4 linked regions of the Homo sapiens genome follow. The protein of the gene in region 2 interacts with the protein of the main gene of each other region in a biochemical or structural test. Each region holds a gene or a part of one and is shown on either strand. Other genes may lie near its edges. The genes, in order: MAPK7, GJA1, CSNK1D and UBQLN4.

Region 1 (2,633 bases), on a different chromosome or scaffold from region 2:
CCAGCCTTCTCTACAGCCTGTGGCTAGTGAGCCTGGCTGTCCAGATGTTGAAATGCCCAGTCCCTGGGCTCCCAGTGGGGACTGTGCCATGGAGTCTCCACCACCAGCCCCGCCACCATGCCCCGGCCCTGCACCTGACACCATTGATCTGACCCTGCAGCCACCTCCACCAGTCAGTGAGCCTGCCCCACCAAAGAAAGATGGTGCCATCTCAGACAATACTAAGGCTGCCCTTAAAGCTGCCCTGCTCAAGTCTTTGAGGAGCCGGCTCAGAGGTGCCTTGTGGGCAGGTCGGGTGGGCAGAGGGGAGACTTGGACTTGGACAAGGCTTCAGGCTTTTACCTTCTCCCCTGCCCAACTTCCCCGCAGATGGCCCCAGCGCACCCCTGGAGGCTCCTGAGCCTCGGAAGCCGGTGACAGCCCAGGAGCGCCAGCGGGAGCGGGAGGAGAAGCGGCGGAGGCGGCAAGAACGAGCCAAGGAGCGGGAGAAACGGCGGCAGGAGCGGGAGCGAAAGGAACGGGGGGCTGGGGCCTCTGGGGGCCCCTCCACTGACCCCTTGGCTGGACTAGTGCTCAGTGACAATGACAGAAGCCTGTTGGAACGCTGGACTCGAATGGCCCGGCCCGCAGCCCCAGCCCTCACCTCTGTGCCGGCCCCTGCCCCAGCGCCAACGCCAACCCCAACCCCAGTCCAACCTACCAGTCCTCCTCCTGGCCCTGTAGCCCAGCCCACTGGCCCGCAACCACAATCTGCGGGCTCTACCTCTGGCCCTGTACCCCAGCCTGCCTGCCCACCCCCTGGCCCTGCACCCCACCCCACTGGCCCTCCTGGGCCCATCCCTGTCCCCGCGCCACCCCAGATTGCCACCTCCACCAGCCTCCTGGCTGCCCAGTCACTTGTGCCACCCCCTGGGCTGCCTGGCTCCAGCACCCCAGGAGTTTTGCCTTACTTCCCACCTGGCCTGCCGCCCCCAGACGCCGGGGGAGCCCCTCAGTCTTCCATGTCAGAGTCACCTGATGTCAACCTTGTGACCCAGCAGCTATCTAAGTCACAGGTGAGAGGGAGGCCCAGGCCATGGGGACACCTGGGTCTGGGCCAAAGGAAAATGGGTTCAGGAAGCGGTCAGTGTTCCACAAAAACTGAGCAGCAGATGGGGCTTTATCTCTGAACGTGTCCTCTTGCTCACAGAAGGAGCATAATGGCAATGAAGAGGTTGTTAGGAGACAAGTTAAATATGGCCTGCAAAGTGCCTAGCCCAGAGATGGGGCCAGCCAGCACTCACTGACTGCCGAGACTGGTGTTAGCACTCCCAGATATCCAGGCGGAGTAGTCAGCAGCATTGGGACAGGGTGGCCTACAGACCTCAGTCTGTCTGCATTGTAACCTGTCATTCCCTGCAGGTGGAGGACCCCCTGCCCCCTGTGTTCTCAGGCACACCAAAGGGCAGTGGGGCTGGCTACGGTGTTGGCTTTGACCTGGAGGAATTCTTAAACCAGTCTTTCGACATGGGCGTGGCTGATGGGCCACAGGATGGGTAAGGTGGCTGGACTGAGCTCCTAGACTGGGACTGTGGGGAGAGGTTCCTGGTGCAGGAGACATGCACCTGTGGGATGGGTGAGGGTCCAGCCTAGGCTAATAGCACCCCTCCCTTTCCTTCCCCTGCAGCCAGGCAGATTCAGCCTCTCTCTCAGCCTCCCTGCTTGCTGACTGGCTCGAAGGCCATGGCATGAACCCTGCCGATATTGAGTCCCTGCAGCGTGAGATCCAGATGGACTCCCCAATGCTGCTGGCTGACCTGCCTGACCTCCAGGACCCCTGAGGCCCCCAGCCTGTGCCTTGCTGCCACAGTAGACCTAGTTCCAGGATCCATGGGAGCATTCTCAAAGGCTTTAGCCCTGGACCCAGCAGGTGAGGCTCGGCTTGGATTATTCTGCAGGTTCATCTCAGACCCACCTTTCAGCCTTAAGCAGCCACCTGAGCCACCACCGAGCCATGGCAGGATCGGGAGACCCCAACTCCCCCTGAACAATCCTTTTCAGTATTATATTTTTATTATTATTATGTTATTATTACACTGTCTTTTTGCCATCAAAATGAGGCCTGTGAAATACAAGGTTCCCTTCTGCACCTGACTCCAGGTGTAATTTTTGGAGTTCGGGGTAGGACACCATCAGCAGGGGAGCAAGGAGGAGCCAGGTGCCTACATTTGGGGGATAAACAAATATGTTTGTGTGTATGAAGCCAGTTCATTCAGGTTCTGAAGGTTTATTGAGACCTTCAGTCCCTACCCACTCCCAGCCCTGCAGAGATTGTCCTCTGCTCCCTCATGTGGCTAAACCTCTCAACACCCAGAGGGTATGGGGAAGACCTCATATGCATGCCTACCTTGGCTGTGGCTGTTTCAGGGTGGTGTGCGGTAGCTGTGTTCTTGGCATAGAGCTTCAGGGGCTGGGATGGGCCATCAGGGGAAGCTGAGTATGATAGTGAGGTGGGCTGGGGTTCCACGGTACTCACCACAGGGGAGTAAGTTGGTGGGAGGGATGCTGAAGATGGGACATGGTTTGAGAGCAGCCCAGAGGAGTGCTGGGCTGTGGCCTAGAATACACCATGGGCCCTGTTCACACTGCACTGC
Region 2 (4,582 bases):
TTCAACACTTTATCTTCCTTTTGGTTCAATAAATATCCAAAAATGTTTACAATTTATGTTGCACTGAACAGAGCTAATGATAAATATTGTCCCTGAAAACATGACTGTTATTTGCTGAAGTTCTGATAACCAATAGAAATGTGTTTAAATAATCTCAAATAGATGCCGTCAATGAGTTTTAAATATAGGCCAGGTGCGGTGGCTCACCCCTGTAATCCCAACACTTTGGGAGGCTGAGGTGGGCGGATCACGAGGTCAGGAGTTCCAGACCAGCCTGGCCAACATGGTGAAACCCCATCTCTACTAAAAATACAAAAATTAGCCAGGTGCGGTGGCGGTGCCTGTAATCCCAGCTATTCGGGAGGGTGAGGCAGGAGAATTGCTTGAACCCGGGAGGCAAGGGTTGCAGTGAGACGAGATCGCGCCACTGCACTCCAGCCTGGGTGACAGAGCAAGACTCCATCTCGGCAGGGGAAACAAATCACACGGAATATAGAAGCTATGTTTATACTAAATTAAAACTTTATTGAATAAAGAACACTCTCCAGAACACATGATCTGATGGACTAGGTCTACATTACATGCAATGAAGCTGAACATGACCGTAGTTTAACATGGAATGTCAAACAAATTAGTAATTTTCATTGTACAAAACTGTTTATGTAGCTGACATGCATGCAAGAAGAAAAGTGTCATACTCAGCATTTTCACCAATCTTCTGTGATGAGTTTTAAAAAAGGCATTTGGAGAAACTGGTAGATGTCTTCAACATATAGTTCAAATAAATTAGTTGTATGTGTACTACTGAATCCTCTTTCAACCTCTCTTGCATTCCAAATAAAATCTTAGTGCAAACATCAAAGTTGCTGGTCACTCCAAAAGACTGCTAAACTCATAATAGAATACAAGTTCTGAATTACTGTGTATTAAGTAGGAAAACCCAAGAATACCAGTTACTGCAAAATTCATTTAGGCACATTTAATAGTCCACTCTAAGCATTTTTTCTAAGTCTCTCACATTAATGACTAAAGCCTGTTTACAGTACTAAAATTCTATCATTCAAGCATCAATGATTACATTTCAGAAAAAGGAAATTCATTTCAGTAATAGCATTACTGCTATATCCTAAAAAAAGGAGAGAAAATAAAGAATCATAATTAACAAAACCAGTATCCATAATAGGATACACAGGGAAAAACATTTTAGGAGAAAAAAAAAGTGTGCTTTACTTGCCACAGCAGGAATTATATAATGTAAACACCATATTGGCCCACACCACAAAAATCCATGAGAAAGGTTCAAATTTGAACACCATATGTGCATTATTTTCAAATCTGTGTTTGTGAGTTTATACTGTATCTGCTTGTACCAATACATGACAAACAAAACAAACTCTTCGACACACATATAAGTGATTGTTAAATATTAAGCATGGCTTGATTCCCTGACTTTAGCTCAAAAAAAAAATGTTAAGTGACATCCCAACTGTCTTAAAAATGTTTACAGAAACCATTAAATGAATGTGAGTAGTAGCTGAGGAATGATGAAAAAGTGATGGTAATGATATTGTGCAAGTGGATGGAAAAAGAATATACGTATTTGCAAATGCATGGAAAATCTTATTCTGTGGGCCTTGTCTGAATTTTAAACTGATACCAAGAATAAAAAAATATAGTAGCACAAGTCCATTGACACCTGGAGGGTCAGGCCTAGAAAGCTTACCTTCAAAGTGCAAATTTTAACAATGGAATGTTTTAGCAGGGACTTAAGGACAATCCTCTGTCTTTTTCTTGTTGAAAAGACCTAAGATGTTCAGGAAGTATTTATTCCTGGCCAGAATTATTTCAGTTTCTTGGTAAAACAAAAATATTTAGCCACAATTACCACCCGCTCATTCACATACACAGAACCATTCTTAGGGGTGTTTGCGGGGAGAAAAAGCCCTTATCTATGTATCACCTAATGGAACTCTTATTTATAATCTAAGTTCTTTGAATCCACTACTTTAAATACCAACATGCACCTCTCTTATCCCCTCCCTCTCCACCCATCTACCCCATACACCCCCAGTGAACCTAGGTATTCTAATGTCTTTGTGTTTTCTAAGCCTCATGAATAAGGCTGTTGAGTACCACCTCCACCGGATCAAAATTAACACCTGGTGCACTTTCTACAGCACCTTTTTTCTTCTCCACAATTGAGTGGAATCTTGATGCTTTCAAGCCTGTATCTAGATCTCCAGGTCATCAGGCCGAGGTCTGCTGCTGGCACGACTGCTGGCTCTGCTTGAAGGTCGCTGGTCCACAATGGCTAGTGGCTGTAATTCATGTCCAGCAGCTAGTTTTTTAGAATTCTGGTTATCATCGGGGAAATCAAAAGGCTGTGCATGGGAGTTAGAGATGGTGCTTCCCGCCTGCCCCATTCGATTTTGTTCTGCACTGTAATTAGCCCAGTTTTGCTCACTTGCTTGCTTGTTGTAATTGCGGCAAGAAGAATTGTTTCTGTCGCCAGTAACCAGCTTGTACCCAGGAGGAGACATAGGCGAGAGGGGAGCGGTTGGTGAGGAGCAGCCATTGAAATAAGCATATTTTTGAGACCCACAGTCTTTGGCAGGGCTCAGCGCACCACTGGTCGCATGGTAAGGGTCGCTCTTTCCCTTAACCCGATCCTTAACGCCCTTGAAGAAAACATAGAAGAGTTCAATGATATTCAAGGCCAGGGACACCAAGGACACCACCAGCATGAAGATGATGAAGATGGTTTTCTCCGTGGGGCGAGAGAGGAAACAGTCCACCTGATGTGGGCAGGGATCTCTTTTGCAAGTGTAAACAGCACTCAAGCTGAATCCATAGATGTACCACTGGATCAGCAAGAAGGCCACCTCAAAGATAGACTTGAAGAGGATACTGATGATGTAGGTTCGCAGCAACCCCCCTCGCATTTTCACCTTACCATGCTCTTCAATACCGTACTTGAACTTCTTTATCTCAATCTGCTTCAAGTGCATGTCCACATTGACACCATCAGTTTGGGCAACCTTGAGTTCTTCCTCTTTCTTGTTCAGTTTCTCTTCCTTTCGCATCACATAGAACACATGAGCCAGGTACAAGAGTGTGGGTACAGACACAAATATGATCTGCAGGACCCAGAAGCGCACATGAGAGATTGGGAAAGACTTGTCATAGCAGACATTTTCACAACCAGGTTGCTGAGTGTTACAACGAAAGGCAGACTGCTCATCTCCCCAGGCTGACTCAACCGCTGTCCCCAGCAGCAGGATTCGGAAAATGAAAAGTACTGACAGCCACACCTTCCCTCCAGCAGTTGAGTAGGCTTGAACCTTGTCAAGGAGTTTGCCTAAGGCGCTCCAGTCACCCATGTTGCCTGGGCACCACCTGAAAGAAACAAAGAGACAATTCAAGGATCACAGATTGCAAATTACTAGTTTAACATTTAGTACCTTTCAGGTGATAGTCAAAATACTACCAACGGTTTCACGTATTTCTAACATTCTTTCACAAAAAACCAAGTGCAAACTCTTCCTGTCCCATTTTTGCCAACGAAGAAAAGATCTAACAAGTGTTTTGTTTTGTTTGTTGAGACAAAGTAAGTCTTAGAAGCAACAGATGATGAGTTGCAGTCTTTAACCTGGGAAGGTGTATTGCTTGCTCAACCACTGCCTTGCTGTGTGACTTGAGAAGCCACCTGTGCTAAGCCTCTGCTCCTTTTATTTGTCTGATAAATGAGGACAGTTTTTGCCTGGTAGATCTGTGTTTGCTAAGCAAAATCCTGATGTGTGTTATTCAAAGCATAGGTATCAAGAATCCAGGTAAGAATACCTATAAACACACATCCATAACCTTCTTTCCAAAACCTTAATGCTATTATATATCATTTTATTACTAATTTCACTCTGAAAGATTTTTTTTTTAAGATGGTGTTTCCCTCTTGTTGCCCAGGCTGGAGTGCAATGGCACAATCTCAGCTCACCACAACTTCCGCCTCTTAGGTTCCAGCGATTCTCCTGCCTCAGCCTCCTAAGTAGCTGGGATTACAGGCATGTGCCATCACGCCTGGCTAATTTTGTATTTTTAGTAGAGATGAGGTTTCTCCATGTTGCTCAGGCTGGTCTCGAACTCCTGACCTCAGGTGATCCATCTACCTCAGCCTCCCAAAGTGCTGGGATTACAGGTGTGAGCCACCACGCCTGGCCTCTGGAAGATTTTTCAATGGTATATCAAGTGTAATTTGTGCATACCCTATATTATTGTCATTTACACTTTTCTGTTTCTTTTTTTAGAGATAGGATTTCACTATGTTGCCCAGGCCCCTGGGCTCAAGAAATCCTCCTGCCTTAGCCTCCCAAGCAATGGTGACTATTTTTTTCTTAAGCAGTGACTTATGTAGCTCAGAAGTCAGCCTTCTGTCCAGAGAAAAAGTAGGCTGTATGGAAATATACTCTTTTGCTACAATGTGTCATTATATGTAGTAACCTACTTTGAAAAACAAAGACTAAATACACATCACACTTCATGTAAAAAGTTCATTTTGTCTCAATACTACTCACAGCCTTATTAAAAA
Region 3 (7,688 bases), on a different chromosome or scaffold from region 2:
CCGGCTAACGTGACCACCTCGCCTTTCCTCCGTGGGGTCGTCTGAAAGGACCACAGTGTAGGCTAGGAGCCAATGCTGATGGGAAAAAAAAAAATCAGCTGTGCCTAACCCCACTCAAGTAACTGGACGTGTACCCTGATGGGTGGCTGTCTGGGACGGCTGTCTGGGGGCTCCAACCCCAGGGTGTCAGAGCCACAGCCGCCCGCAATCCCGTATCCAGCATGACTGTATGCCCAGCGCGAGGTGAGGCCTGGAGGGTAGAATGCTGAGTGAGGAGACAGCCTTCCACCCTCCACCTCTGGAATTACTTGGTGACAACCACACCAAAATTTGTCTTAATCTATCTTTGGAAAGCACAAAGTTGTTTGACAAGGTCTCAGATCAGAGAACAGATAGTTTCAAAGTACTTCTTATTTATTTATTTTTTGAGACAGAGTCTCACTCCATCGCCCAGGCTGCAGTGCAGTGGTGTGATCTTGGCTCACTGCAACCTCCGCCTCCCAGGTTCAAGCAATTCTCGTGCCTCAGCCTCCCAAGTAGCTGGAATTACAGGCAGCCACCACCACGCCTGGCCAATTTTTGTATTTTTAGTAGAGATGGGGTTTCGCCACTTTGGCCAGGCTGGTCTCCTGACCTCAAGCGACCCGCCCACCTCAGCTTCCCAAAGTGCTGGGATTACAGGCGTGAGCCACCACACCCGGCCCAAAATACTCCTTTTTGATGCCTGCCTAAAGGTGGCTAATGGACTGGCTTTGCAGTGTAACTCAGATCCTGGGGTTAAAACTTTCGCCAAAATCCATTGTTCTATAAATAAGCCAAACGACTTCCATTGACCAAGCACTCTGACTTCCCAAACACTGCCAAGAACACATCCAGCTGACCACCTGGTATAAATGTTTAATAGCCAAACCCAAATGTCTAAAGCCTGCTTACTCAGCAGTCCACTAAGGCATATGTACAGGTTCAAAAGCAACAATATGGCATGTGACAGGGTCACCTGGCAGGTTAACCAGGCACCGAAAGTATGAGCCACCCATATGTGTGGATTCGTCCTAACGCTGTCAGCCCACCGGGTCCTGAGTCCTCTCTCTGGTGACAAGTGGGAAGGGTGTGAGAACTGGAGACTGTCCACATGTGGCTTCATCTAAAAGGTATGACCAGAGGCATTACTGACATCCCAGGGGATTCCTGACCCTAGCTGACAGGTGCCCCAGTTAAAACACACCCCAAAGCTAGGGCTGCTGGAACAGAAAACAGCTCCCCTCAAAGGTCTGCAGCAGCCCCTCTGCAGGCACACCGCCTCAGGCTACATATCCTCAAATTCAGGGGATCTTGGAATAACTCGTGCATTGCACAATCCCACTAACAAGTGCGGAAAATTAAGTTACTTTAAAATTACAAACTTGGGCCAGGCGCGGTGGCTTCCCAGCACTTCGGGAGGCCGAACTGGGCGGATCACTTGAGGTCCGGAGTTCGAGACCAGCCTTGACCAACATGAAGAAACCCCGTCTCTACTAAAAATACGAAATTAGCCAGGCGTGGTGGCGCACGCCTGTGATCCCAGCTTTTCGGGAGGCTGAGGCAGGAGAATCGCTTGAACCTGGGAGGCAGAGGTTGCGGTGAGCCGAGATCACGCCATTGCACTCCAACCTGGGCAACAAGAGCGAAACTCCGTCTCAGGAAAAAAAAAAAAATTACAAACTTGAAGATTTAAGCCAACCTTTCATCACACTTGTGTTCACGTGCATATTTTTCCATTGTAAATATGACACAACCCAAAACCTTCTAATCCCATTGTTTTTGAAATCTACCTTGAGACTGTTACAGTCTAAAGGACACCTCATGAGTACAACTACCTCATCTGCCTCTCATCTTGCCAGCATCTTAATCCTGTGTGACTTTCTCTACATTCACCTAAACTTAACCCTTGCTCATTTGCACTCAGTCACCGCTCCAAGGCCAAGGGGAACCGTTCAGAGAGAACCCCCAGCGGGAGGGCAAGCCCCACTCCTAGCCGGGCCACTCCCCCGCTCCACACGGCATTTGGGTCTTTCTGACATTTTCCCCCACGAATGCAAGACACCGGGGCAGCCTCTGAGGGGGCAGCCAGACAGCCCCGGACCGGGCTGCGGAAGAAAGAGCGTGGCCTTTGTTTACTGCGGTGACCTTAGGCGTAGAGGAAGCCGACGCCCGCTTCGCGGCCCCAGCCCTACCCCCTCCCCTCCCACGGCCCGCTGCCCCCACCCCCGCCCTGCCCCTCCCCCAGGCCCGCCTCCCCACGCCCCACCCAGCCCTTCCCGAGTCCGCTCCCCACGACCCTGCCCCTACCCAGGTCGGCTCCCCAGAGACCATGCCCCACCCCGGGTCAGCTCCCCTATCCCCTCCTTCCCCAACCCTCCCCTCTCCAGACCCTGCTCCCCCGACCTGGTCCTGCCCCTCCCCCACGTCCGCTCCCCACTGCCCTCCCCACCCCTGGCCGCGCTAGCCTAGTGGCCGTTGGGTTCTGGCCACGATCCGGCGGTGCCGGGACTTGCGCGGAGACCCCGCGGGGGCCACCACTTCCTTCCGCGATCGCGCTTGGTCTTGGCAGCCGCAGGGCCCGGGTCTTCGGGCGGCGGGCGGGGGCGGCGGGGCCTCACCGAGATAGATGTCTCCGAAGGAGCCGCTGCCGATCTTCCGGCCCAGCCGGTACCTGTTCCCGACTCTCAGCTCCATGGCGGCGGCGGCCCGATTCGCTCCTGCCCTCCCGGCCGCTTCCTGGGTCTGAACTCTGGGAGGCGGCGCCGCTGCTGCCGCTACTGCGGGTCCGGCTCCCGGCTCCGCCCCCCTCACGGCCCCGCTTTCACCATCGCTTTCCTGTCGCCCCGCCGCTCCCAGCGCCTCAATACGGGGCGGATGGGACAGTCCGAGCGCCGCCGCCGCTGCTCCGGCCCCTACCGGTCCCGCTTGCCCTCTCCCCGCCGCGGATGGACTCGGATCTTCCGGGCCTAAATCCCCTTTCAGCTGCCTAAAGGAGCCGCCGCCATCGCGCTGTGACGTCACTTCCCCTAGCAACCCGGCGGGGCGGGGCCGCGGCGCTCCAGGGGCGGGGCCGGGCGGGGCGAGCGCTCCAGGCCTCCTCCCGACCCTGCGCCGTGCCCAGCCCCTCTGCCCTCCTGTTACCCCGGGACCTCGGGCCGCCAGCCCCTTCCACGTGCAGGCTCCTGCTGCTCTCGCGGGGGCTTTTCGTGTGTCCCCCGAGATGTCGAGGAAGCCAGGTGAGTTCCTCGCGACAGGCGGTGCCCTTTGCAGGAGGGGACAGGTAGCTGAGGCGTGGACAGAGTGACAGGCCAGGCTCAGGGGACACAGGTGAGACCCCCTCACTGGGCTGCCAGTTCCCGGGCTTGGGGCATCCCAGTACGTCAGCGTCTGCGGCCTTACCTCCTGACACCTAAGGCCAGAGACAGAGCAGGCCCGCGCCCTGGGAGGTCCTGATGTCCAGCCTGAAGATTGAGGACAAAGCCACCACCTTTCACAAAATGAGGCCAGACCACCTGCCTCCCTCCAGTCCCTGCGGCCTGGAGACGGAGTCAACATTCTTATCTGTGTTGGATCTGAATGTTCCTCCTTGCAAAGGAAACAAGGAGTGGACGTTCAGGCTGATGGCCAGCTTCAAAGATCGGGGCCTTTGATTCCCATCACTGGGAAGAAAGCCCTTCAGACAAGCCCCCCCAGGCTGCAGGTGCATGGGGACCTTGAAGAACCCGTCCCCATGGTCCCACGTCCATGTGTCTCGAGACCTGTCGCATCCTCGCTGAAACTCAAGAATGTGAAACAGGTGAAGGTGTGTTTTGACGCATTAGCATACCAGGGCTGTGGTGTGGGCACCGCCGTGTGAGTGAGACAGCAGCCTCAGCCCGTCCAGGTCACTGCAGAAGAGGAAAGCAGCCCCCACAGGCCCCACAGTGGTGCTCGCCTTTCTCCACCCCCCAGTCTTTCCTCTCCACCCCTCAGCTCCAAACAGCTGGAGGTCAGGTCGGGGAGACGGGCGTCCATTCCCGAAATTACATAGCAGGGCCTGGAGACAGGAGATGCCGCCGGCCAGACCACCATCAGTCACTAATGAGGGATGGGCAGTCGGAACTGCCCAGTTTCTGAGTTACAGAAGCCGGGGGTGGGGGGCTGCCAGACTAGTAAAACTGACCTTGTTGGCGGAATCGCTCACGGCTTTTCTGTTGATGAACAGAGTCCAGCTCTCCCACGGGTGGCTGTGATCCTTCTTCCTGGGGAGTCCTGCTGTCCCTGACTAGGGGCACCTGCCCACCTGTCAGCTGCTCCTCCCTCGGCTGGTCCTCCTGGGCTCTGATGGCCCCAACATTTCTAGCTCTTCTCACCCATAGTGCCCCAAGCTTCATGCAGCTGCGGCAGGTACTGTGCCCGTCTGCCTGGCTTTTGTGTGTTTGTGTCTTGACTCTATAACCCGTGCACACGGACTGGGCTGTGGTGTAGTGGGGATGGCAGGAGCCCTGGGAACATGCGGGCTGGGCAAGGTGAGGCAGGCTGATTGCTGTGGCTCCCCCACCACCAGCCCCAGCCACAACAAACTGACAAAGGAAGAGGACAGTGGTACCCTGGAGCCCTGGGGTCAGAGAGAGGAGGACAAAGCAGGTGTGTAGCCCAGGGAATGACAGCACCCCTTCCGAGAAGACAGGGAGGGTGCAGACATGGCCAGGTTCTGAGCTAGAAAACTGTCAGCAGGGGGCTGAAGCTGAGGATAGTCATTGCCAAGGAACAGCCTCCGTCACAGAGGAGACGCACAGATGCGGTGACGAGGGAGGGATGCGGGGCTGGTGACCGCTGGGAACGGATGTGTGAGGCAGAGTCTCCAGGCATGGTCTGTGGGGCGGTTTGATGATACTAGAACATCTCAGAGTAGAAGGACGTCCCGACCTGCAGACTGGAAAGCCCCCAGAGCTCCCGGCAGGACGTATGAGGGCCAGCCCACACCCAGGTCTGTCCTGATACAACTGAACGCCACAGTGTCTTAGCTCCTTTACTGTTGCTATCAAGAAACACCTGAGGCTGGGAAATTTATGAAGAATCATGAGGTAATTTGTATATTTGTCCACACTAAACCTCATGTTGAATTGTAAACCCCAAGGCTGGAGGTGGCTGGGTCATGGGGGTGGATTTCTCAGGAATGTTTAGTACCATCCCCTTGGTGCTGTCCTTGAGATAGTGAGTTCTCCTGAGATCTGGTTATTTAAAAAGTGTGGGGCACCTCTCTCTCTCGCTCACTCGCTCGCTCGCTCCTGCTCTGGCCATGTGACGTGCCCGCTCCCCCATTGCCTTTCACCATGATTGGAAGCTTCCGGAGGCCTCCCCAGAAGCTGAGCAGAGGCCAGCACCATGCCTCCTGTAAAGCCTGCAGAACCAGGAGCCAAGTAAACCTCTTTTCATTATTTATTTATTTATTTATTTATTTATTTTGACACAGGGTCTCGCTCTGTTGCCCAGGCTGGAGTGCAGTGGCGTGATCTCGGCTCACTGCAACCTCTGCCTCCTGGGCTCAGGTGATCCTCCCACCTCACCCTCCTGAGTAGCTGGGACTACAGGCACACGCCACCATACCTGGCTAATTTTTCATATTTTTTGTAGACATGGGGTCTTACTGGCCCAGACTGGTCTCAAACTTCTGAGCTCAAGTGATCCATCCACCTTGGCCTTCCAGAGTGCTGGGATCACACGCATGAGCTACCATGCCGGCCCTCTTTTCTTTTAAAATTGCCCAGTCCTAAGTATTTCTTTATAGCAAGGCAACCACAGCCTAACACAGCTCACGATGCTGAGGTCTCAAAAGTTCAAGATCGGGCGTCTGCCTCTAGTGAGGGCCTTGCTGCCGCTGCCTCCACTCATGGCAGAAGGTGAAGGGCAGCTGGAGTGTGTGCAGACCGTGTGCGAGAGGGAGCTGGAGGAGTAGGGAAGTACAGGCCTTTTTTTTTTTTTTTAAGATGGAGTCTCGCTCTGTTGCCCAGGCTGGAGCGCAGTGGCGCAATGCCGGCTCACTGCAACCTCCGCCTCCCGGGTTCAAGCGATTCTCCTGCCTCAGCCTGCTGAGTAGCTGGGATTAGAGGCATGCGCCACTATGCCCGGCTAATTTTTGTATTTTTGTAGAGACGGGGTTTCACCATGTTGGTCAGGCTGATCTTGAACTTCTGACCTCGTGATCCGCCCGCCTTAGCCTCCCAAAGTGCTGAGATTATAGGCATGAGGCACCGTGCCGGCCGTGCAGGTGTTTTTAAAAGCACCTCTTGCTGGAACTAGTAGGAGTGAAAACTCACTCATTACTAAGAGGACAGCACCAAACTGTTCGTGAGGAATCTGCCCCCATGACCCAGACACCTCCAACACTGGGGCTCAGATTTCAACCTGAGGTTTGAAGGGGACCAACACCCAAACTATAGAAACAGAGAAAGAGGAAAGTTTACAGATACCCATTTAGAAAGAATCTGCTAACAAAGGGAAAGAATCAGGCTGGGCGCGGTGGTTTATGCCTGGAATCCCAACACTTTGAGAGGCCAAGGTGGGTGGATCACCTGAGGTCAGGAGTTTGAGACCAGCCTGGCCAGCATGTGAAACCCTGTCTCTACTAAAAATGCAAACATTAGCCAGGCGTAGTGACGTGCACCTGTAGTCCCAGCTACCCAGGAGGCCAGGCAAGAGAATTGCTGGAGTTCATGAGACAGAGGTTGCAGTGAGCAGAGATCCTGCCACTGCACTCCAGCCCAGGCAACAAGAGCGAGACTGTGTCTCAAAAACAAACAAACAACAACAACAAAAGGAAAGAATCAGACTGGCTTGGGACTCTGCTGTCCCCTGCCCGTGACCTCCCAAAAGCGTGTGTTAGAGACTGACCTGCCTAGTGCGTCAGTGGAGGGGGCACTTTGGAGAGGGGCTTGGATCGTGAGGCCCCGCCCTCGTGAATGGCTCAGTGCCTTGTGAAAGGGCTTGATGGAGGGAGTTTGGTCCCTTTTCCCCTTTTGTCTCTCTGCTGTGTGAGGACACCATGTTCCTCCCCTCTGGAGGATGCTGTAACAAGCTGTCATCTCGGGAGGAGACACCAGGCCCTGACCAGACGCTGAACATGCCAGCACCTTCATCTTGGACTTTCCAGCCCCCAGAACTGTGAGAAATAAATTTCTGTTCTTTATAAGTACCTAGTCCATGGTGTTTTGTTACAGCAGCATGAACAGACTGAGATAGCGGCTTACATGTAACCGGAAGCTGCAGAAAAACATCTTCAGACAGCTGAGACGGCTCCCAGGACTCGTGCCTGGCACAGACACCATCTGCCTGGCAGGGCAAAGAAAGGCGTCTGTGAGTGTGGGAGGATTCCGAGTCTAACACCCTGAGCCCAGCCAGGAAGGGGCCAGGAAGGCCTCCTCGTGAACAACGAATGAAACAGATCCCAGATCTCAGACAGGGCGGGGAAGGGGAGGGGTACCATGTCAAGCAGCACTCTGTGTAAGTCGGCACCTGCGCACACTTGCATGCAGACGTGTGTATTGTGAGTGTATGGACATGTTAGAAATGGATGTGTGCATGTGTCTGCATGTGTTTGTGCATTTATGCACAGACACTACACGGGCATGCACATCATGTACGTATATGTTTGCATATGTGCACGTGTGTGTACGTGCATGTGTTCG
Region 4 (7,000 bases), on a different chromosome or scaffold from region 2:
AAGTAATAGCTCATGAGTAAACCAGGCCCCACTTCCTAAGCTCCATGAGCACCTCTGGTATTATCCAGTGTAAAAGGTTCAGACTGCTGTGGGGAGAGGGGGCTGGAGAGGAATCAAGGCAGACCTGGGGAGAGGCAGATGTGAGGCTGGGGGAAAGGGATGTGCAGGGCTTGCCATGTACAGAAGAACAGGTTATGCACTGCACAACCCTAGAGGATGCTCCATTTATCTGGACTATGACTGTACACATGGCCTGGGGGATGTCTTCAGCAGATGCTCTAATTTCTCTGCACTCTGGGGGATATCTTGATTGGGAAAGTTCCTTCCCTCTGTGTGTTTTAGTTTCCTTATTTGTAAAGTAAGGACTGGAACTTGATCCATGATTTTAAAATTGTGCTCCTGCATCCTGGAAAGGTCTTCATCTCCAGGATGAGGAAGGACCCAATGGGAGAGGCTGCAGCCCTCCTGCCCCAGCTCCAGCCAGACCATTAACACACTTGGTTTCTGAGTGAGATTTAGCATGAGGAAAGGGTCTCTGCTGCTAAGACAAGTTTGATCTAGATGATATTTAATCATTTCTTTCCAAATTGGACATAATTTGAGCTTATGGCAGGAACAGTCCAGAGAGGCATAAATCAGACCCAGTTCCTAGCTGGCTTGTCCTTATCAAGTAAATGGAAAAGGGGCCAGGCCAAAGCAGGGCAAGATGACCTTGGACTTGGGAGAGACTTGGACTCATGCCACAATCCTAGGGTGCCCACTGGACCATTGCTTTTCTGAGTTTTGTAGTCATTCGGTGTCTGAAGTAAGGTAGATTGAAGTGAGGCCTTCGGTTTCCATCTGGACCCTTTCTCTCCTGTTTTCTTTTTTTCCGCCTTGTCCTAGGGATGTTCAATAGCCCAGAAATGCAAGCCCTCCTCCAGCAGATCTCTGAGAACCCCCAGCTGATGCAGAATGTGATCTCAGCACCCTACATGCGCAGCATGATGCAGACGCTTGCCCAGAACCCCGACTTTGCTGCTCAGGTATGAAACCAGCATGAGGAGAGTATTGTTGGGGAGAGAGTTCCTCTTGGTTGGGGGCAGTTTCTTGTGGTCAAAACACTGTGGAGCCAGACTGCCTGGGTTTGCATCCCAAGCTCTGCTGCTTCCCAGCTGTGTGAGTTAAGCAAGTTATTTAGCCTCCCAGTTTCTTTATCTGTAAGATGATAATAACAATAGTTCCTACCTCCTATAGTTGTGAGGATTAAATGAGTTAATACACGTTAAGTGCTTAGAACATGGCGTGTGACAGAGTAAGTTCTGTATACCTGGAAATGTTAGCTGTCCTCATCATCATCAGACCCAGGGCTGAGCAGGCTGACTCCTCATACTCTTCATTACCCAGAGCATAGTTCCATTTCCTCTCACTGTCCCACTTAGGCCTTCAGGATACTTTGAGATCCCCGGAGAAGCTGGCCAGATTTCCTGCAGTGGTAGGGGGTGCCCAGGGAGTCTGAGGCTGTGGGGGAATTCTTAGGGTGAAAAGGCCCAGGTCTCCCCCTGCTACCTTCACCCTGGCAGATGATGGTGAATGTGCCGCTCTTCGCGGGGAACCCCCAACTGCAGGAGCAGCTCCGCCTGCAGCTCCCAGTCTTCCTGCAGCAGGTGAGTGAGGAGCCTAGATGGGTGGAGGTTGAGGGCAAGGGGTAGTCCCTGAAGCCCAATGGGTGGAAATGAAGTTGGGGCAGAGCTTGACTCTGGACTCCTAGTTGAGGTTGTCTCCTCTTTCCTGCCACCTCTTGATGCCTTTCTCTGCTTATTTCCCACCAGATGCAGAACCCAGAGTCACTCTCCATCCTTACCAATCCCCGAGCCATGCAGGCATTGCTGCAGATCCAGCAGGGACTACAGACCTTGCAGACCGAGGCCCCTGGGCTGGTACCCAGGTGAGGGTAGGGGGGCAGGAGGGCAGCAAGGTTCTAGCAACTTCTCCCCTTCAACTCTTCTCTCTGCCACTCTCTCAGCATCCTTTGTGTCTCTGAGGGTCTGTTTTCCTGTTTCTTCCAACTGCTTTTCCTTCTGGATCTCACATTCTCATCCCTTTCTTGGATGCCATCTCCTACCTCTTGGTCTCTCTTGCCTACAGCCTTGGCTCCTTTGGGATATCCCGGACCCCAGCACCCTCAGCAGGCAGCAACGCAGGGTCTACGCCCGAGGCCCCCACTTCCTCACCAGCCACGCCAGCCACATCTTCTCCAACAGGGGCTTCCAGCGCCCAGCAGCAACTCATGCAGCAGATGATCCAGCTTTTGGCTGGAAGTGGAAACTCACAGGTACATGAGGCAGTGGGGGCAGGTGCTGGGAGCACCACTTTGATCCTGGGAGGTTTCAAGGGAAGCAATAGAATAGAGGCAGTAGGGCAAGCTTGGGAGTCAGGTCCTGTTCTGCCACTTGCTAGCCTTGGGCAGGTTACTGATGCTCCCTGAGTTCAGTTTGTGCAGATGTGAAATAGAGATGAGAAGAGTAATGGTACTTACCCGTGCACTACATACTGTTCTAAATGCTTTAGATTTTGGAGCTCATTTACGACTCATTTACCACATTCCTCACAATAGCCTCATGAGAAAGCTATTATTATTATTTCTGTGTTAAAGATGGGGAAAACTGAGGCCCGGAAAGGTTAAGTGGCTTACTCACTTACATAGCTAGTAGATAATGAAGCCAAGACTCAAACCCAGGCATTCCACCTCCAGAATTTACACTATACCATTTCTGCTTATATCAAAGGATCCTTTTGATAATTAAAGCAGCCCCCATCTCTGAGACTCTGGGGAGGGGGATTCTGCGAGGTAACCAAAGCCCTGGGAAAGTCAAGGCCAGGGGCTGGCAGGAGGGGCAGGGATGACCTACCTCGAGTGAGCCTCTTAACCTTTCTCTGACCTCTGTGACTCATCTGGAAAAGCCATTCAACCAAAATGTATGTTTACCCAGCTTTGTGCAAGGCACGAGAGAGCTAAACTAGGTGGTGTCCAGTCCAGGTGCAACCCAAGTTAAATTCTGTGGACTGGCTGGGCGCGGTGGCTCACGCCTGTAATCCCAGCACTTTGGGAGGCTGAGGCGGGCGGATCACGAGGTCAGAAGATCGAGACCATCCTGGCTAACACGGTGAAACCCCATCTCTACTAAAAAATACAAAAAAAAAAAATTAGCCAGGCGTGGTGGCAGGTGCCTGCAGTCCCAGCTACTCAGGAGGCTGACGCAGGAGAATGGGGTGAACTCGGGAGGTGGAGCTTGCAGTGAGCCAAGATGGCGCCACTGCACTCCAGCCTGGGTGACAGAGCGAGACTCCATCTCAAAAAAAAAAAAAAAAAAAAAATGTGTGGACTGTGATAAGAAGCAACAAGGAGCACTGGAAAGGGCTTTCTTTTTTTTTTTTTGAGACAGAGTTTTGCTCTTGTTGCCCAGGCTGGAGTGCAATGGCGCAACCTCTGCCTCCCAGGTTCAAGCCATTCTCCTGCCTCAACCTCCCGAGTAGCTGGGATTACAGGCACGCGCCACCACACCCGGCTAATTTTTTTGTATTGTTAGTAGAGATGGGGTTTCACCATGTTGTCCAGGCTGGTCTCGAACTCCTGACCTTAGGTGATCTGCCTGCCTCGGGCTCCCAAAGTGCTGGGATTATAGGCGTGAGCCACCACACCCGTCCAGAAAGGGCTTTTATACTGCAAGTCAGGGGGCCTTAGTGACTGACTTTCTCTGTGACCCCAGGCAAGTCCTGTCTTTTCTCTGGATCGAACATTGTTCCTTTCAACACCAGGTGGACGGTGCTTGCTGGACTCTTTCTAGCTATAAGAGTCTTTTTTTTTTTTTTTTTTTTTTTTGAGACGGAGTCTCGCTCTGTCGCCCAGGCTGGAGTGCAGTGGCCGGATCTCAGCTCACTGCAAGCTCCGCCTCCTGGGTTTAGGCCATTCTCCTGCCTCAGCCTCCCGAGTAGCTGGGACTAAAGGCGCCCACCACCACGCCCGGCTAATTTTTTGTATTTTTAGTAGAGACGGGGTTTCACCATGTTAGCCAGGATGGTCTCGATCGCCTGACCTCGTGATCCACCTGCCTCGGTCTCCCAAAGTGCTGGGATTACTGGCGTCAGCCACCGCACCCGGCCACTATAAGAGTCTTTTGTTCATAATCAAGGCTTGTGCTTTCCAAATACCCCTTGGGCAAACATTTACAGGAGATAATTAGAGGAATGACAAGAATGAAAAGCCAAGCTAGCCAGGCGGTGGCTCACTTCTGTAATCCCAGCAATTTGGGAGGCCGAGGCAGGCAGATCACCTGAGGTCAGGAGTTCAAGACCAGCCTGACCAACGTGGAGAAACCCCGTCTCTACTAAAAATACAAAATTAGCTGGGTGTCGTGGCGCATGCCTATCATCCCAGCTACTCGAGAGGTTGAGGCAGGAGAGTCACTTGAACCTGGGAGGCAGAGGTTGTAGTGAGCTGAGATCGTGCCATTTTACTCCAGCCTGGGCAACAAGAGTGAAACTCCATCTCAAAAAAAAAAAAAAAAAAAAAAGCCAGGCCAGGAGTGTGGCTCATGCCTGTAATCCCAGTGCTTTGGGAGGCCAAGGCAGGGGACTGCTTGAGGCCAGGAGTTCGAGACCAGCCTGGGCAACGCGGGGAGACCCAGTCTGTAAAAATTTTTTTCTTTTAAAAAAAGTCTTAGTGCAAGCTGGGCATGGTGGCTCATGCCTGTAATCCCAACATTTTGGGAGGCCAAGGCGGGTGTATCACTTGAGGCCAGGAGTTCAAAACCCACCTGGCCAACATGGTGAAACCACGTCTCTACTAAAAATACAAAAATTAGCCGGGCTTGGTGGCATGCACCTGTAATCCCAGCTATTCAGGAGGCTGAGGCAAGAGAATCGCTTCAACCCGGGAGGCAGATCATGCCACTGCATCCAGCCTGGGTGACAGAGCGAGACTCCGTCTCAAAAAAAAAAAAAAAAGAAGAAGACCTAGTGCAGTGGCTCATGCCTGTAATCCCAGCAGTTAGAGAGGCCAAGGCAGGAGGATCACTTGAGACCAGCCTGGGCAACATAGCAAGACCCTTTCTCTGCTAAAAAAATTTTTTTCTTTATTTTTTATTTTATTTTTATTTTTTTGAGATGGAGTCTCACTCTGTCCCCCATGCTGGAGTGTTATGGCACAGTCTCGGCTCACTGCAACCTCCGCCTCCCGGGTTCAAGCGATTCTCCTGCCTCAGCCTCCTGAGTAGCTGAGACTACAGGCTCCTGTCACCATGCCCAACTAAGTTTTGTATCTTTAGTCTCGGGGTATCGCCATGTTGGCCAGTCTGGTCTCGAACTCCTGACCTCAAGTGATCCACCTGCCTCAGCCTCCCAAAGTGCTGGGATTACAGGCATGAGCCACCACGCACTTTTGTTTTTTTAAGATGTACTCTGTCTTCCAGGCTGGAGTGCAGTGGCGCAATTTCAGCTCACTGCACCTCCGCCTCCCGGATTCAAGTGATTCTTCTGCCTCAGCCTCCCAAGTAGTTGGGACTACAGGCATGCGCCACCACACCTGGGTAATTTTTTGTGTTTTTAGTAGACATGGGGTTTCGCCATGTTGGCCAGCCTGGTCTTGAACTCCTGACCTCAGGCAAACTGCCCATCTTGGCCTCCCAAAGTGCTGGGATTATAGGCATGAGCCACTATGCCCAGCCAAAAAAAAATTTTTTTTTAATTGGCTGGGCAAGGTGGTACACACCTGTAGCCCCAGCTACTCAGGAGGCTCAGAGAGAAGGATCACCTGAGCCCAGGAGATAGAGGCTGCAGTGAGCTATGATTCTGCCACTATATTCCAGCCTGGGTGCAAGACCCTGTCTCAAAAAAAAAGGAAATACTTCTCTTTTATAAATAACTGTTGATCAGTGAAACAAAATTAAATAGCTTCTTAACTGGGACCCTTCTCTAGCCTTTCATATGGCTGTACGTGTGATGACTATTAGGAGGGGCCTTGGAGGTCATGCTTAGTATGCATCTTATTTGACCATAGAACATTTGGCTTTTGGAGTGCCTGTTAACATCTCCAGTGTTTATGGAAAGTAATGAGGAATATATGCTGATCTAGGCCTATCAGTTATCTTGAAAATCTAAAAAAGATATCCGCCTGCCATATTATTACACAGTTTTGTTTGTTTGTTTTTTTGTTTTTGTTTTTTGAGACAGAGTCTCGCTCTGTTGCCCAGGCTGGAGTGCAGTGGCGCGATCTCGCCTCACTGCAAGCTCCGCCTCCCGGATTCACGCCATTCTCCTGCCTCAGCCTCCTGAGTAGCTGGGACTACAGGGCGCCCACCACCACACCCAGCGAATTTTTTGTATTTTTAGTAGAGATGGGGTTTCGCCGTGTTAGCCAGGATGGTCTCGATCTTCTGACCTCGTGATCCGCCCGCCTCAGCCTCCTAAAGTGCTGGGATTACAGGCGTGAGCCACCGTACCCGGCCATTACACAGTTATTTAGGACTTGGGACCTAGGCTCCTGGGCCCCCATTTGCAGCTCATCTTCCCTGCCCTCCTGATTGACTCTGAGGATATTAGAGAAGACCTGCTGGTCTTAGAAACCCTTAATTCAAATAGGGCCCCCAAGATTGGTCCTGTGCCCACTTCACAAGGCCTGTCCCCTCCAGGTGCAGACGCCAGAAGTGAGATTTCAGCAGCAGCTGGAGCAGCTCAACTCCATGGGCTTCATCAATCGTGAGGCTAACCTGCAGGCCCTGATTGCCACAGGAGGGGACATCAACGCAGCTATCGAGAGACTGCTGGGCTCCCAGCTCTCCTAATCCCTCGGCCCATGCCTCCTGCCTCTCCCCTCCCTCGATGTCAGCATTCGGTTCTTCTGTCAATCCTTACCCTCTGCAGCTTGTCCTCCCTTCCGTCTTCTCCCTCATCCTTTCCAAACAGCAGGGTGACTTTAGAGGCATGGGCTCCAACCCCTTAGCTCTGTCTGAGAATTATGGTT

What was found.
Region 1: of the proteins of GJA1 (region 2) and MAPK7, one has a biochemical effect on the other in vitro, tested with the Homo sapiens proteins (one study listed by BioGRID).
Region 3: of the proteins of GJA1 (region 2) and CSNK1D, one has a biochemical effect on the other in vitro, tested with the Homo sapiens proteins (one study listed by BioGRID).
Region 4: the proteins of GJA1 (region 2) and UBQLN4 form a complex in vitro, tested with the Homo sapiens proteins (one study listed by BioGRID).

What each region holds. Positions count from the first base shown.
Region 1 is NC_000017.11:19,381,412-19,384,044, forward strand, and holds the end of MAPK7 (mitogen-activated protein kinase 7), read left to right. Parts: coding exon 1-275; intron 276-369; coding exon 370-1,055; intron 1,056-1,401; coding exon 1,402-1,535; coding exon of another isoform or gene 1,536-1,539; intron 1,540-1,666; coding exon 1,667-1,820; 3' UTR 1,821-2,133; downstream 2,134-2,633. UniProt on the Homo sapiens protein: Plays a role in various cellular processes such as proliferation, differentiation and cell survival. The upstream activator of MAPK7 is the MAPK kinase MAP2K5.
Region 2 is NC_000006.12:121,445,646-121,450,227, reverse strand, and holds the end of GJA1 (gap junction alpha-1 protein), read right to left. Parts: intron 3,397-4,582; 5' UTR 3,381-3,396; coding exon 2,232-3,380; 3' UTR 501-2,231; downstream 1-500. UniProt on the Homo sapiens protein: Gap junction protein that acts as a regulator of bladder capacity. A gap junction consists of a cluster of closely packed pairs of transmembrane channels, the connexons, through which materials of low MW diffuse from one cell to a neighboring cell.
Region 3 is NC_000017.11:82,270,667-82,278,354, forward strand, and holds the start of CSNK1D (casein kinase I isoform delta), read right to left. Parts: upstream 3,035-7,688; 5' UTR 2,716-3,034; coding exon 2,640-2,715; intron 1,437-2,639; exon of another isoform or gene 1-1,436. UniProt on the Homo sapiens protein: Essential serine/threonine-protein kinase that regulates diverse cellular growth and survival processes including Wnt signaling, DNA repair and circadian rhythms. It can phosphorylate a large number of proteins.
Region 4 is NC_000001.11:156,036,799-156,043,798, reverse strand, and holds part of UBQLN4 (ubiquilin-4), read left to right. Parts: intron 1-885; coding exon 886-1,025; intron 1,026-1,421; coding exon of another isoform or gene 1,422-1,439; exon of another isoform or gene 1,440-1,546; intron 1,547-1,562; coding exon 1,563-1,646; intron 1,647-1,811; coding exon 1,812-1,927; intron 1,928-2,127; coding exon 2,128-2,314; intron 2,315-6,668; coding exon 6,669-6,821; 3' UTR 6,822-7,000. UniProt on the Homo sapiens protein: Regulator of protein degradation that mediates the proteasomal targeting of misfolded, mislocalized or accumulated proteins.